Regions from separate parts of the Homo sapiens genome. Here region 2 is linked to region 1. Evidence: fine-mapped expression QTL. Tissue or cell type: gastroesophageal junction. Region 1 holds a variant in brackets; the other region holds the start of a gene. All regions are shown on one strand. Distances are from middle to middle.

What was found. PIP is the estimated chance that this variant, and not a neighbour inherited with it, causes the effect.
Region 2: it holds the start of ATG101, and the variant in region 1 is fine-mapped to the expression of ATG101 in gastroesophageal junction (GTEx, PIP above 0.99).

Annotation. Positions count from the first base shown.
Region 1 is chr12:51,811,398-51,819,500 of GRCh38, reverse strand. SCN8A (sodium voltage-gated channel alpha subunit 8) reads right to left here. Exons shown (of 27, transcript NM_001330260.2): 27 at 6,637-8,103. TMDD1 (transmembrane and death domain 1) reads left to right here and starts at 4,576. Exons shown (of 1, transcript NM_001386737.1): 1 at 4,576-5,580. The coding sequence starts at 4,608. The coding sequence ends at 5,561. It overlaps FIGNL2 (fidgetin like 2), which reads left to right. Exons shown (of 2, transcript NM_001384995.1): 2 at 1-1,602. RefSeq lists an enhancer at 4,377-4,876 and a silencer at 4,985-5,064. The variant T/C (reference allele first, on the strand shown) is at 3,207.
Region 2 is chr12:52,066,252-52,074,343 of GRCh38, reverse strand. ATG101 (autophagy related 101) reads right to left here and starts at 4,366. Exons shown (of 4, transcript NM_021934.5): 1 at 4,102-4,366; 2 at 3,861-3,990; 3 at 442-769. The coding sequence starts at 693. RefSeq lists enhancers at 4,018-4,733, 4,611-4,900.

The sequences.
Region 1 (8,103 bases):
AGACTTACGGGGAAGGGGAGAGGAAGACCCAGAGGCCTCAGTGAAACCCCAGCTATTCCTGGTCAGAAGCAGAATGTATTCCTAAGGGCTTCCTCCCCAGGGCCGAGGCCTAGGCATGAATGTGGGGAGTGGGCTGTGGGGTTTGAGAGAAGGGAGGCCTTATTCCTCTCCTGCTGCTCCCCACCCCCTGCCCCACCCAACCCCTCCGCTGAGTGTTTTCTGTGAAGGGCTATCCAGAGTTAGGATGCCCTTGCCCAATTCCTTCCTGAGACCCAGAAGGTAGGGTGGGAGGGCCCAAATGGGAAGGTGACCTAAGCAGAAAGTCTCCAGAAAGGTCATGTCCCCTGGCCCTGCCTTGGCAGAGGTCCCCAGTGACTTATGCTAGGAGGATTCCATCTGGGTAGACAGTCTGGCCACAAAATCAGCTACTGGACCTCAGCCATCTCTGCTGGAGGCTCTGAGGAGGAGTGAGCATCCCTCACTTGTGGGGGCTCTGTGAGGAAATGTGCCTTCCCCATTCCCCCGGAGTCCTAGGTCTGGAGCTCCAGGGCTGGGAGAGGGTGAGGGAGATGGGCAGGGGTGTTTTCTCTGACCTTGGGGGCTTAGTCTCAGTCCTGCCTGAACTTTCCACTAGGCTTGGAACCCTTCCAAGAACCATATTTCTCTCCTTCCCACCAATTTTCCCTTGATGAGGCTTTAGCAGTTTGCTCCCACCACCCCCAGCCCATTTCACAACTCTGATCTTAGTCCAAAGCAGGGGACACGCCCCCCCACCACCACTTTTTCTCTCTCCCATCTCAGCCTCCTGTGCAGTTCCTTGCCTGCCCGTGCATTTCCTAGAGTCTACTGCCTCCCCCCTGGCTGGGAGGGTGTCTGGGGGGGATCTTTCAGGGGCCCTGGCACCCAGGGCCTGTGCTGGCCTAGGAGTGCTGACCAGAAGGCTGCTCTGTTCCCCCCCACCCCCGTTGCTTTCTGGCCCCCTCTTTGGAGCCAGCCACCCACAGGGCTTTGGTGCCTCAGAAGCAGTGGGCTGCCGGGTCACAGCCGCAGGCTGCAAAAGACCCTCGGAGGGAGCATGGAGTGAGGGGTTCTCTCTCAGGTGTGTATGTATTGGGGGGTGGGGGTGGGTGGAGGGTGTCAGGGAAGTTGGGGTGGGATCCCAGCCTTCCCTTCAAGAGGCAGGGAGCTCTGGGAGGTGGAGTCCCCACCGCTTTCTCTACTAGGCTCCTCCTGTTCCCCAGGCTTGGGGAGCTTTGCACAAGGAGACTGCCCCCAGCCTAGTGGCACCTACCTCATGGGCTCTGGGGCAGGTAGGGGAAGGGCCAGTCCAGCTCTGGTAATGCTGGGGGGAGGCATACCAAAGAATCCAGGGGCAGGGAGTGGGGAGGGTGACTTCCGAGCTGGCCTCTCCCCTTCCTCTACCCAGACTGGGGCTGGGATCCTCTCCTCCCGCTGTAACCATTTCTACCTCATTTTGCTGCGTGTTGTACATGGACGTATTTATCTCCTGTCTGACGATGCTCTGCAGTTGTGGTCTGTCTACCTCAGAAGAGACTGTATTTTAAAAGAAAGTATTACACAGTATTAAAGCGATGACATGTGGTTTGCAGAAGATTTCTCGGGGGCAGTGGGATGTGGGAGTCCTCTGGGAGATGTCTGGACACCTGTGTATGCTGGTGCCCTGGGCGGGGTGTTCCTAATCCCCTAGTAACAAGGAGCAAGGACTCCTGTGACTCACTGTGATACAGTGAGTACCTACAGGAATGGGCACTGAGGCTATGGGGAAGAAGCCATGGGTAAGGGGCCTTCCTGCCGTTCTGAGCTCTGACATTCAGCACTGGGGCAGGCTCATTGTATCCCCAGAGCCACAAAATAGGGGGGCAAGGAAGGGCTCACATGTTTGTTGAATGAGTGAAGAAATGAATGCATGGAGGAAGGGGGTTGCTGAAGAGAGGGAGGAGCCATCCAGAACCTGCAGCAGCCTTCATTGAATAGAGCTAGGGTTATACTTGTATTCCATTCTCAGTGGAGATAAAGTGGATAGAGGGCGGGGTGTGGAGACGGCCAAGTTCCAATGTCTCAGGTGACGTGGTGTCCTTTGTCTACCATCCCCCCATCCATCAGTCCCCTAACTCTATCTGTGACAGCTCATCGTAAACTGGGAGACTGAACAACCTAGGAACACTTGCTGAACAAGCTCTGTAGAGATGTCAGTGAGAGATTTGGACCCACAGCTCCTAGGTCCTTGAATACTCTAGGCAAGATTGCTGAGCATGCGCAAGAGCACAGGGGAGTAGTGCACCCAGGCTCCCTGCTATGGCTCACTGCACACATACAGGAGGCAGCGTGAGCATCAGGGAGACCCTGCAAAGCAAAGAGGACACAAATGTGAGTGTGCCTGGAGGTGGGGGCTCTAAGGCACTGCCCCAGAGTCCATTACCACAAGCCTCTCAGCCCTTGGAGGTCCAGACCCACCTGCCCCCACTCCTCTATTTTGCACCTTACTGTGTGCAGACATTGGGCCTGGCACTGAGGATACAGAAGGGGTCAAGCACAGCTGCTATTCCTGGAGCCCATGTCTAGGTGGGAAAAGCTCAGAAATTGATCATTTAAAAATACAACTGGATAAAGCTGCTGGGGATGGGGGACCACATCAAAGTAGTCTTTATATTCATACACCTAGTGCAATTATCTGGTACATACAAGACATTGAATAGATGTTTCTTGAATAAATCCTCTAATTTCCAGATGAGTGCCCTGGTGGAGGATGCACAGGTTATCTTAAGAATGCCAAGAAATGGCTGGGGGCGCGGTGGCTCACGTCTGTAATCCCAGCACTTTGGGAGGCCAAGGTGGACGGATCACTTGAGGTCAGGAGTTTGAGACCAGCCTGGTCAACATGGTGAAACCTAGTCTCTACTAAAAATACAAAAATTAGCTGGGCATGGTGGTGCACACCTGTAGTCCAAGCTACTTGGGAGGTTGAGGCACGAGAATCACTTGGACCTGGGAGACAGAGGTTGCAGTGAGCCGAGATCATGCCGCTGCACTCCAACTTGGGTGACAGAGGGAGATTCTGATACAAAACAAAACAAAACAAACAAACAATGCCCAGAAAAGATCCTGACTTGTGGTGGTCTTGGTGGGGTGTCAGGAAAACTTCCTACCCAGGAGGGGAGGGGGATAGCTGGGCAAAGTATGGAGGC[T/C]GGAAACTGCATCTTACGTGCTGTGCCACGAGTCTTGTTGTGTTACAAGATAGTGAGGGCAGGAATTGGAGGAGTGAGGCTGGAGGAGTCAGCGGGGACCTCACTATGGAGGGCCTTCCATGCCCTGCTAGGAGCTGGGGCTCTATGATGAAGCCTTTGTGGGAGTTTAGGGGGCCGAGGACAGGACTGATTTGCAAGTTAAGAATTCACACAATGGCCCTGCCTTGTGGCTCATGCCTGTAATCCTTGCGCTTTGGGAGGCTGAGGCAGGAGGATCCCTTGAGCCCAGGAGTTCCGAGACCAGCCTGGGCAGCAGCAGGAGACCCTGTCTCTTAAAAAAACAAAAAATTCACACATTGACTCAACAAATCTTTACTGAACACTTATTATGCTCTAGTTGCCATGGGGACAATGTATGGACCTTGCAGTCTAGTTGGCGGAGACAGTAAAAAGGCCGAGCTGCAGTGTGCTGTGGGGCAGATAGGAGGAGTCCCTAATGGGGACACCACTAAGGGGTGTGACTCGGAGTCAGGGAGGGCTTCCCAAAGGCGCCTGACAGCAGGAGGAGTGCAGGCCGCGATCAGAAGGAGAGCCAGAGCCAAGCTTCCTTGGGGGAAATGGAATAAGTGCAGGTAGGCAGGGCCCCAGTGTTGGGGGGCAAGGATGGGGGCTGGAGGACCAGCAAGAGAGGAGGAGGGTCTGGACTTGCACTGGAGTGGGAGAATGGGATGATGGATTCATTTAATAAATACTAAACTTTAGTATTTGGTAGACAAGAGGAGAATTTAGGAATTGAGGCCAGGCATGGTGGCTCATTCCTGTCATCACAGCACTTTGGGAGGTGGTGGCAGAGGCGGAGGCTGGAGCTGGAGACCAGCCTGCGCAACACAGCAAGACCCCTATCTGCACAAAAGAAAATAAAAAAAGAGAATGTAGGAATTGATTGAATATCGAAGTTAATGGAGAGCAAGGGGTCTAGGGCTTTTCGTAAAGGGGAACGGTTGGGGAGTACATGAATTAGAAGAGATGTTGGTAACTTGTTCAGTTTGAGGTATTAGTGGCTATTAGGAGGCCTAGGGCAGGAGCTACAATGTAAAAGCCCAGAATCCTAGCCTCCTGGGGGGCTGAGAACCCCCTTCCTGGGTGTTGCAAGCCCTCTTACCCCAGTTCCTGAGTTTCGTGAGACCCTCCAACAAGTGCCATGTCGGAGTCCCCGTCTCCGTCGCTGGGTGTTGGCAGCCCCCTTGTCCCCAGTCCCCTCCTCCACTAGGCTTCCCGACTGTTCGGAGCCTCCTCCCTCCCACAATCCGCGGGCGTTCGGAACCCCTCCCCCATCACCGGCGCGGAGCCCGTCCACGTCCCCGTCCCCGCACAGTCCTCGGTCCCTGGTTCCCGCCAGGGATGGCGGCGCGGACTCTGGCGAGCGCCTTGGTCCTCACGCTCTGGGTTTGGGCGCTGGCTCCGGCGGGGGCCGTGGACGCTATGGGCCCTCACGCAGCCGTCCGTCTGGCCGAGCTGCTGACCCCGGAGGAGTGCGGCCATTTCCGGTCGCTCCTGGAGGCGCCCGAGCCCGACGTGGAGGCCGAGTTGTCCCGGCTTTCTGAAGACCGGCTGGCGCGGCCTGAGCCGCTCAACACCACGTCGGGGTCTCCGAGCCGGCGGCGGCGGCGAGAGGCGGCCGAGGACCCGGCGGGCAGGGTAGCCGGGCCTGGAGAGGTGTCCGACGGCTGCCGGGAGGCGCTGGCGGCCTGGCTGGCCCCCCAGGCCGCGTCCCTGTCCTGGGACCGCCTGGCTCGGGCCCTGCGGCGCAGCGGCCGCCCGGACGTGGCCAGGGAGCTGGGCAAGAACCTCCACCAGCAGGCGACGCTGCAGCTGCGCAAGTTCGGGCAGCGCTTCCTGCCGCGGCCCGGCGCCGCCGCCCGCGTGCCCTTTGCCCCGGCCCCGCGCCCCCGGCGCGCCGCGGTCCCCGCGCCGGACTGGGACGCCCTGCAGCTGATCGTGGAGCGCCTGCCGCAGCCCCTGTACGAGCGGAGCCCCATGGGTTGGGCGGGGCCGCTGGCGCTCGGCCTCCTCACCGGCTTCGTGGGGGCGCTGGGCACCGGGGCGCTGGTCGTCCTGCTCACGCTATGGATCACTGGCGGCGACGGCGACCGGGCGTCGCCCGGCAGCCCCGGCCCGCTCGCCACAGTGCAGGGCTGGTGGGAAACAAAGCTGCTCCTTCCTAAAGAGCGGCGCGCGCCCCCGGGGGCCTGGGCTGCAGATGGGCCAGATTCTCCCTCACCTCACAGTGCCCTTGCCCTCAGCTGTAAAATGGGAGCACAGTCTTGGGGCAGTGGTGCTTTGGACGGTTTATAAACGTTAAGAAATACCGAAAGAGCAGAGAGTTTGTTAATCCGTTGGAAAGGAGCAGCAAAGCCCGTGGGACTGCCGGTGGAAGAGGGGCTCAGGTACCAGGCTCCCAGGGTGGCAGGTGCACCGCCCAATTCTTGTCAGCTTAGCTTTTTTTTTTTTTTTTAAGAAGGAGCCTCGCTCTGTTGCCCAGGCTGGAGGGCAGTGGTGCGATCTCTGCTCACTGCAACCTCTGCCTCCGGGGTTCAAGGATTCAAGCGATTCTCCTGCCTCAGCCTCCCGAGTAGCTGGGACTACAGGTGTGCGCAGCCACGCCCCGCTAATTTTTGTGTTTTTAGTAGAGACGGGGTTTCGCCTTGTTGGCCAAGTTGGTCTCCAACTCCTGGGCTCAAGTGATCCGCCTGCCTGGGCCTCCCAGAGTGCTGGGATTACAGGCGTGAGCCACTGCGCCAGGCAGATTCCTTCTTATCTTGCAATTATTCTTCCACGAAGAGTTACCACTTATTGCGCACTGTGTGCCAGGCCTCATGCTAACTAGTTACATACATTATTTGATGTACTCTTCAAAACTCAAGGAGGAAGGTATTGTCTCCATCACACATGCGGAAACTCGGCCACAGCTAGTTAGTGGCATAGTCACGTTCTCGAACCTACGGCCGTCTGACCTGAAAGTTTGAGCTCCAGAAGGAAAGGTGTGTGCGCAATAAGGGGCTTGAAAAACGTGATGGGGACCAGAACAAGATGTGCAGCTCCCCCTCGGGGCTACTCTGGGGCTCTGCTGGAGTGTGCAGAGGCAGCACCACTAGAGAGGGGTGTGCCCACGTGCAGGGCGCCGCCTCCAAGGTGCTGCCCCCCGCCAGGCAAGGCCTCCTGACATGCTGAGTGGAGTCCCAAACCTTTCCCACACACCTGGGAGTGGCTAGGGCACTGCCTGCCCAGCTAAGGGGCTGAGCCGCGGTGAGCCCTTACGCAGACTTCTGTCCCCGCCACGGGACAGAGTGGGGTCCTGCGAGGTGGTGGTGCCTGTCCACCTTGGGCTTCAGTGTGAGGGCAATGACAGAATGACAGGCCAGTCCAAGAGGAGAGTTGAAAACAAGATTGACGTAACCCTTTATTGCAAATTCTAAAGTAAAAAGATGTACAGTACAAAGTAAAATTGAAATTTCATACTATAAACTTCCAATCCACTTACACATTCTCATTTCTCAAGCATTTCTGCCATTTCCGCATAAACAGAACAGGGAACAAGTCGAGGAGGTGAGGGAAGGAGATACAGCAAGGGGAAAAAATTGTCTTGAATAATCACAAACCCCAGAAGCAAGTGAAAGGAAAGACATTTTCTCGACCTGCTGTCCTGGTGATGAGAAGCGGGGGTGGTTGGAGCAGTGCAGTTTAAAATGGCTCTCAGAATAGCAGCATTTATGGTACCATTTCAGCTTCCTTAAGTCCAATAATACTTTGCCCTTCCCTAGCGCCTTTGCCTCTGTATCTCAAAACGCTTTACAAAACATTTAGTTAAAGCCTCACAACACCCCTGTGAGGTAGGTCAGTATTATTATCCCCATTTTACAGATGGGGAAACTGAGGCACAGAGAGGTTAAGTGACTTGCCCAAGGCCACACAGCGAGCCAGCGGTCAAGCTAGGGACAGAACACAGTTCTGTCCCTTTTCTGGAACCACTGGACCACACTCCCCTTTACCTATATACATTCTTCACACACACACACACACACCACATGTGCACACCCACCCACCCCACCCCACTTAGCCTCTATGTACAGCAAACAGCAGTGGGGGGCAGGGGCAGGGGGTGCCTCAGGAGTTTTAATGGAGGAAATCTTGGTAATCTTGGAAAGGGAATCCAAGAAAGCACAGAGCTGAACAATGGAAACTCTGTTGCAAAACTTGGGCCCCTCCCAACCCAGACTTCCTCTTCTCTCCTGATGTCCCCCTGGCTGGCAAGTTGCAGCCAATTCTTTAGGGGGTGGGGAGTACCTGAAAATGAACGAAGCTTTTTGCTAAACTGTGGGCAACATCTGAGAAAAGAAAGAGGCATCATTACAGAAGATGCCCAGGACTCAAGTCACAAAGTCATGACCCATGGCGATCTCACCTCCACAGCAGGCCTGGAGGCTGGGGGCCGAGGGGAGGAGGATGGGGACTGACCTACCAGCCATCTCGCTCCAGAGTGGAGCTACTGGAGCGGACTAGAGTGGGCACTTCGAGATCCTCCTGAGAGAGTGTTCCTGAACCAGGAGACATGGCCTAGGCCTAGAGAGGGATGTCCCCAAAGGGGGACAGGGAGAGAAGGAAGAGGAAGCGTGCCCCCACCCCCACACAAATGTGAAGGAGACCAGCCCTCGTCTGTGGGCCTGTCTGGGGCGATGGAGGGCAGGGCCCAGTATGAGCTTGCAGAGTGGAGGCTGTTGGGCATCGCACATGCCCTAGCTTTGGGGCACAGGGATAGGGTTTTTTTGTTTTTGTTTTTTAACATACAGGTGAAAAAGGCAGAAGTAAGGCCAGTCCAGCTGGGTTGGCTGACGTCATC
Region 2 (8,092 bases), 250 kb before region 1:
AATGCCACACCACCAAAAGGGACACTCCCATCTTGGATGGCAGCCACCTGAACCAAGCAAGCCGTCCTCTGGGGGAGTTTCATGTGGGAAAGGAAAAGTGGAAGCAGAAGCAGAGAGAGCTGTAACCAGAGAGGTCAAGACCACAGAAGCAAGGATGGCCCCAGGGGACCTGGCCGCCAACACTGCTCAGCTTCCTGCTCTCCCTTTTCCCCCAGGCACATTTATGAGTCTCTCCCTCCCCCACCACACACACACGCGCCCGCGCGCCCTCCCCTGAAGAGGAGCTCTCAACACATCTGTTTCTCAGAACCTGAAAGAACCCGATTCACGCACTCAGGAAGAGAAGGCTGGTTCAACACCAAGCTGGAGTGGAGGAGCACTCGAGGCCCCCCTGCCATCTGCTATGCCACACCCTTACCTTGAACTCCCCGACACCCTTACCTTGAACTCCCCAACAACCTTGCGCAGGGCACGATCCAGTTCCTCAGAAGAGACACGCACATAAGTGAAGTCGATGAAGTCACAGTCAACATCCTGGGTGCCCACGGTGCCAATGGAGTAGGTGCCCTCCTTCTTGTAGTGGAACTTGCCTGTGCTGCGGTGCAGAAGCACCGTGTGCAGCACAGCCAGCATGGCCTCCTCCACCTGCCGCCCCTCCACCGACACCTCCAGCACCTCCGAGCGACAGTTCATCCTGCACCCAGTAACCCACACCAAGGTGTGGAACTAGGATAAAGACAGGGGATCTTCACCCTACCCAAGGGCCACCCTGCAAAAGGAGCCCAGGTCAGAATGCTGACAAGAATAGTCCACGTGTTATCTGTTCACTTCCTTCTAGGCTCAGCTCAGCCTCTGCCTCCACTGGCCCTTCTCTGCATTTTGGCAGCACACACTATCAACGAATCATCAAGTCTCAGGATCAGAAAGTGCAAGAGCTTCAAAGTTATCAGTCCAAATGACAGGCTGGGATTCCATTTTACAGCCTTCAATGTAGTTTACAGCAGATGCTCACTGTGCAACATTTGTCAGGTACTAGACATCAAAGGCAAGCACGGCCCCTGCCCTCAGGCTGACAGGATGAAGAAAAAGCACGCAACTAAACATTATCACCACGGAGAGAGTACAGGGTGGGAGTAAGAAGTACAGAAAGATTGGAGTCTGATTTCCTGGGACCTTGAATGAACAGGTTAAGGCATTTGGACTCTGTCCTAAAAGCAGCGAAGAGTCAATGCATCACTAAGCCAAGATCAAATCTGTGCATCAAAAAAGTACCTCTAGGCCGGGTGTGGTGGCTCACATTAATCCCAGCAACTTGGGAGGCCGAGGCAAATCACTTGAGCTCAAAAGTTCAAGACCAGCCTGGGAAACATGATAAAACCCCATCTCTACCAAAAATATAAAAAATTAGCTGGGCCTGGTGGCAGGCGCCTGTAGTCCCAGTTACTTGAGGGGCTGAGGCAGGAGGATAACTTAAATGTGGGAGGCTGAGGCTGCAGTGAGCTGAGATCATGCCACTGTGCTCCAGCCTGAGTGACAAAGCGAGACCCTGTCTCAAAAAAAACAAAAATACAAAGTAATAAAATAAATTTAAAAAAAAAAAGACAAGTACCTTTGGCTAAAGGGCAAAGAATGGCTCTAAACCGTATTGGGGTCACAAACTGCTCTGAGAAGTGAATGAAGCCATGAAGACTGGGCTTTAAAAACATGACTCTCACACACACACATATACCAAATCTCACCTATTTCTAGAGACACCCACATCCACAGACTCCAGGGTAAAAACTTGTGGATTTAAGGCACAAAGGCTGGGCACGGAAGTCAGTTAAAGACCACTACAGTAGATGTAGTTACAGAAGCAGCATAATCAGGTGTGGGCGGTTTTTCATGTCCTACAGTCCTGGGTTTGAATCCCACCTCATCTACATCTTGCTCTATGACCTTAAGCGAATCACTCAACCTCTCTGAACTTCTTATCTGTAAATGGGGATAGTAGTGAGAATTAAGGTAACACATGTAAAATACAGTAGAATAGTGGTTGAAAACGATGACTTGAAAGCCAGACAACCTGGAATGGAACCCCAGCTCTGCCACTTGCTCCATGCTCATGATCTTGGGCAAGCTGCTTAACACCTATCTGCCACATATACAAAAGAGATAATAATGGCTACCTTGAAAGGGTTGAGGGCTGAATGAGCTAGCATGTATAAAACACTTAAATAAGTACCTGACAAATGGTAAATATCCACTAAGTATTAGCTGCTATAATTCATTATTACATTGTTACTGCCAAGAGATGATGCAAGGCTATAACACAGCAGTGGTAGAGAGAGTAGGAAGGAGAGAACAAGAGACTTGAGAACTAGAACATAATAACTAAATACATGCCCAGAGGGAGAGGGAGCTTCAAGTTCCTTATAACTCAGAGTATTCAGCTTGCAAACCTCCCCTGACTGGGAATTCACTAGCTCTCACAACAACCAGTCAATGTTCAGGAAGTTCTATTCAGTTATTCTGATTTATTTATTTATTTTATTTATGAAATGGGGTCTCACTCCATCACCCAGGCTGCAATACAGTGACACAATCTCTACTCACTGCAACTTCTGCCTCCCAGGCTCCCATCCCAGCCTCCCAAGCAGCTGGGAACACAGGCGAACACCACCACACCTGGCTAATTTTTTGTATTTTTGGTAAAGAAAGGGTTTTGCCATGTTACCCAGGCTGGTCTCGAACTCCTGAGCTCAAGAGATCCACCCGCCTCGGCCTCCCAAAGTGCTGGGATTACCGCACCCAGTCCAGTTATTCTTTCTGCTGAAGAATCTGTCTCTTAGTGCTTCAAACCACTTTTAGTTTTAGTTTTGGTACCCAAAGCCACACAAAATAAGTCTCACCTCTTTTCCACAAGTGAGTTTTTATTTAGGGGCAGCTATTCCACCACCCCCTCACCCCTTCTACAGGCTGAAGGTCCCCAGTCCTCAAAAACATGTCTGTTCCACATCACATCTTATCTGCATGGAATCCTAGCAGCTCTCCTCTAAGTATATTTCACTCATCTGGTTGACAGATGGTGAATATAAAAAGTATATTTCAGTTTGTGTCTGCCCCTTTTAAACTGTTGCTCAGCACAGGATACAGGGCAACGGTCTGTGGACCGCACAGAGATCAGGCCAGCTCTGCCTCTCAGCTGGCGATCAGCTCGCGTCTACCTGTACTATCAAGCACCATCACGTTTTGTTTTTGTCTCTACCACTAGGCAAACAATTCCTATATTCTGCTTATAGGGCAGAGACTATATTCCATTCATCACTATAATGGTAATTCCTAGTACCTTCTACAAAACAACTGCTCAATTGAGCCCAACCCAGGAATTCCAGGTTCTTCCAGGGGTTGCTGGATTAGTTTCTCCTACATGCTTGGATCAAGAAGGAGAAGGGCTCTCTTGCTCGTTTTGCCCTCCAGTTTTACTCCATCCAGCAGTTTTCTTCCCATCTAGAGACTCCCGGCTCTGGTCCGGCTCCCTTTCTTCCACGACTTCTCCCTCTTGTGTCCCCCGCAATCGTTCACACAAGCCACACATCTCACTTGTGCCCCAAGCCTGGGCTCCTCCCTCATTCTACGTGCTATTTTAGGATCCACTCCTCCAAGAAGTCAGTCCTGACCAACCCCATTCTCCTTCCCACAGCTGCCACATTTGGTCTGTGAAAACCTTGTTGTCCCCTGCCCCACACAGTGAGCAGTGAGCAAGCAGGGCCCACCAGAGTAGGGTCTGGAAAGTCTCGTCCCTCTTGTCCCCCCGAGTGGCAGAGGCTAACAGCCGCCTTCTCAAGCCTGGCTGGAGCACAGGGTGCGCCCATTCCCACCTTGAGTGTAGAGTTTGGAGCACGGATTCCTCAAGCTCGGCTCATGCCCTTCCTCCTCCTCCTCACGCCCTGGTGCGACCTCCGCAGGTACGCTTCAACCTCCGCACGGCGCTGAGCCACAAGAGACCAGCTAAAAGCAAAACCAGAAAACTTACTTGGCTCCATATCAAGAGACTCGGGACGGACGCAGGAAGGAATTCCCGCCCGGGTCCCGTATCCCCCGCCGCCACTACGCGCGAACCTCCACAGTCCACGTAACCAGGGAGGAACGGACTCCTCGGGTGTCTCGGGGGCGGCGCCCCGCGCCCAGGCTGGCTGGACTCGGAAGCTGGAGGAGCGCCCGCGTTCCACTGCCCCGGGGGATGCCCACGCCGGCACAGGAGAGGGGGCACACGGTTAAAACAGCTCCCACCTCCCCCAACCACAGTCCACGACCAGCCTCTCAGATGCCACCACTCTCCCGGCAGGCTCCAGACCACCTGGGTCGGAGGCTGAGCCGGGACCGGAAGCCGCACCGCCCCCCGCGCGCCGGGAAGCTCACCAGATCCCACGGCCCCGGAGGGGGCACCTGCCCAGCTCGCCGGGCCCCCGCACGCATGTAGCCGCCCACAACATCCGCGTAGTCACAGAAGCACACGCAGATAGTCATGCGTTGCTCTCTGATCTGGGGGCTGCTCCTTTCGTGGTTATGTCTCGGATTTTAAGAGTTGATGGTGATGAAGATCCCCCTCATGTGGACGAGTCCATTCAGCCCACCACCGAGAACGCTGTGGTGTTTCGGCCCGTACAACTCACTTCCGCCATAGAGACTGGAGGGAAGGAGGAGCCCTACGGGCTCTCGGCCGCCTCCCTAGGCCGAGCGGAGTCATCGGCGGCGAGCCTGGCCGGGAGACGCTGACGCGGTGCCCAACTCAGTCCGGACTGAGAGGTCTGGAAGGAACACTGATCACCGCAAGATGAGGGGCGTACCCCGTAGAGAGAGGTCCTGGAGATGAGCCCACACCGCTGTACTGCAGGACGCCCAGTGGATGGCAAAACTTGAGTTTGTTGAATGTGCGTAACAGACGGGATCCCTGGCCCTCCACCCACACAGATGCTGGAGAAAGGGGCTTCATCTCTCAGTGTTGCCTTTATGCAGCAGCACTACTTGATACCCCATGGTGACCAATCTGGTGACAGTCCTTCGGAGGCTAGTAATTCGGCCATTGCTTCTCTGCGTGACCCTCAACATCACTCATCCTTTCTGATGCTCTCTATAAACAGGTGGCTGTTGTGAGGATCACAGGAGATAACTCATATGAAAGATTTCTGTGACCTGTAAAGTCTAATATGAATACAAGTGTATTTTTAGTGCTGTGTAACTTCCTGGAGCGCATTTGGTTCTCCATGTAGATTGTAAGCCCAGAGCAGACAGGGCTTCGAGAGCTCGGTTAATGCACCCACCTCCAATAGGAGGCAGTATTTTTTTTTTTTTTTTTTTTTTTTTTTTTTTTGAGACGGCGTCTCGCTCTGTCGCCCAGGCTGGAGTGCAGTGGCGCTATCTCGGCTCACTGCAAGCTCCGCCTCCTGGGTTCACGTCATTCTCCTGCCTCAGCCTCCCGAGTAGCTGGGACTACAGGCGCCCACCACCACGCCCGGCTAATTTTTTTTGTATTTTTTTTAGTAGAGACGGGTTTTCACCGTGTTAGCCAGGATGGTCTCGATATCCTGACCTCGTGATCTGCCCGCCTCGGCCTCCCAAAGTGCTGGGATTACAGGCGTGAGCCACCGCGACCGGCCAGGAGGCATTCTTAAGGTGTTAGCTGGGGATTACCATGCTCATTTTCTGGCCCATTGGGGTGCCTCACGCCTGTGATCCCAACATTTTGGAAGGCTTAGGACAGAGCATCACCTGGGGCCGGGGGTTCAAGACCAGCCTGGTCGACATAGTGAGACTCCCATCTTTAAAATAAAAATTAAAAATTTAGCTGGGCGTGTTGGTGTACCCCTGTAGTCCCAGCTACTTCAGAGGCTGAGGTGGAGGATCACCTGAGCCCAGGAGGTTGAAGCTGCAGTGAGCTATAATCACGCCACTGCATTGCAGGCTGAATGACAAAACAAGATCCTGTCTCAAAAAGAAAAAAAAAAAAAAGTCGGGTGTGATGGCTCATGCCTGTAATCCCGGTACTTTGGGAGGTCGAGGCTGATGGATCACTCGAGGTCAGGAGTTTGAGACCAGCCTGGCCAATATGGTGAAACCTCATCTCTACCAAAAATACAAAAAAAAAAAAAAAGCCAGGTGTGGTGTCAGGCACCTGTAATCCCAGCTACTTGGGAGGCTGAGGCAGAAGAATTGCTTGAACCTGGGAGGTGGAGGTTGCAATGAGCTGAGACTGCACCACGGCACTCCAGCCTGGGCAACGGAGAGAAACCCTGTCTCAAAAAAAAAAAAAAAGCTGATTTTTCTAACACATGCTTTTATTTCCCAAAACGATAATAGATAACATTTATTAGGTGGAATGGAAAGGTCATGATTTTAAATACCATATATGTGTACATATAAATTTAAACCTGATACTAATCAATCCTGCAATATAGATAAGAAATTGGGCCGGGCATGGTGGCTCACGCCTGTAATCCCAGCACTTTGGGAGGCCGAGGCAGGTGGATCATTTGAGGTCATGAGTTCGAGACCAGCCTAACCAACATGGTGAAACCCTGTCTCTACTAAAAATACAAAAAAAAAAAAAATAGCCAAGCTTGGTGGCACACACCTGTAATGCCAGCTACTCCGGAGGCTGAGTCAGGAGAATCGCTTGAACCGGGGAGGCAGAGGTTGCAGTGAGCAGAGATCACACCACTGCACTCCAGCCTGGTGAAAGAGCGAGACTCCGTCTCAAAAAAAAAAAAAGAAAAAGAAAGTGACTGGGGAGAGGTTAAGTAAGTGGCCCAAGGTCATTCAGTAAATAACAGAGCCTTGAGTTCAAATCGAAAGCTCTTTGCCACTATGGGAGCTCTCTTTCTGGCTGGCTTCTTCAGCCAACTCTCTCCTATGTACCACCACTCTCCAATACACCCCCACCCACCAGTGGTGTCCTGATAAATGCTTCACACCTGCTCTCTGGTAAGGGAAATGCCTTGATTTGTAGCATTTGCCCATTTCCTATCATAGGTGATTTCAAACTACAAGACATCAATGAATGCAGAGTCCAGAACGGATGGATGATTGCATCTTGATCGTCAAGGTTAAAATCAGCCCTTGAGGGCCAGTGCCAGCTGGCTCCAGCACACCACTGTCACCACCTCACCCTTAGGCTTCCCCCTCCCATTCAGTTCTTCGAAACCTGGCTGCACAAGCTCCTCCTCAGGCTGGCCTTTCCACCATCATCTGCTCCCTATCCTCTTCCCTTCCTCCCCACAGTTCTGCCCTTTTTCAGCCCTTGCCTCTTATCCCAGGTGTGGGTGCCTCTCCTGGGAGAAAGAGAAAGCTGCCTGCCCTACACACCAGCGACCTCTTCGGGAGGCTGCACAAAACCAGACGGCAATCAGGAGGAAATATTGAGAGGGAAGGGTCTGTAAGAAGCTGAGAGAGGGACCAAGGGAGGTTGGAACCAGTCCTGGAGTGGAGGAGGTGCCAGAGCCCATCCCCAGAGACTGCCAGTGAGTAAGGGAAGTGACTGATCTCTCTGGCCATCCACACACTCCAACTCAGCCCTTTGCGACCACTAGCCTGACATCATCATCATCATCATCATCATCACTACTACCAATCATTGAACCTTGCTAGGTACAATGCCAGCACTCATAGGCCCTATTGTGCTGATTTTTCCAACTACCTTTCAAGGTAGATACAGTCCACCTCCCCGACACTCCACTCTCTGATTTACTTGATATTATAACTGAAGCCCAGTCATACATAGTGATGCATAGTGGTTTCCTGTGATGCTTAATTTTACGTGTCAGCTTGACTGGGACACAGGGTACCTAGACAGTTGGTTAAGTATGATTCTGGGCTTGTCTGTGGGGTGTTCTGATGAGCCTAACATTGGAATTGGCAGACAGTGAAGCCGATTTCCCTTCCCGGTGTGGAGGGGCTTCATCCAATCAGTTGAAAGCCTAGTAGAACCAACAGGTTGACCCTTCAGTGAGTAAGGGGAACTCCTGCCTGACTGTCTTAGAACTGGGACATTAGTATTTTCCTGCTTTCAGGTTCCAACTGCCTTCAGATAACTGCTTCTCCTAGGTCTCAAGAC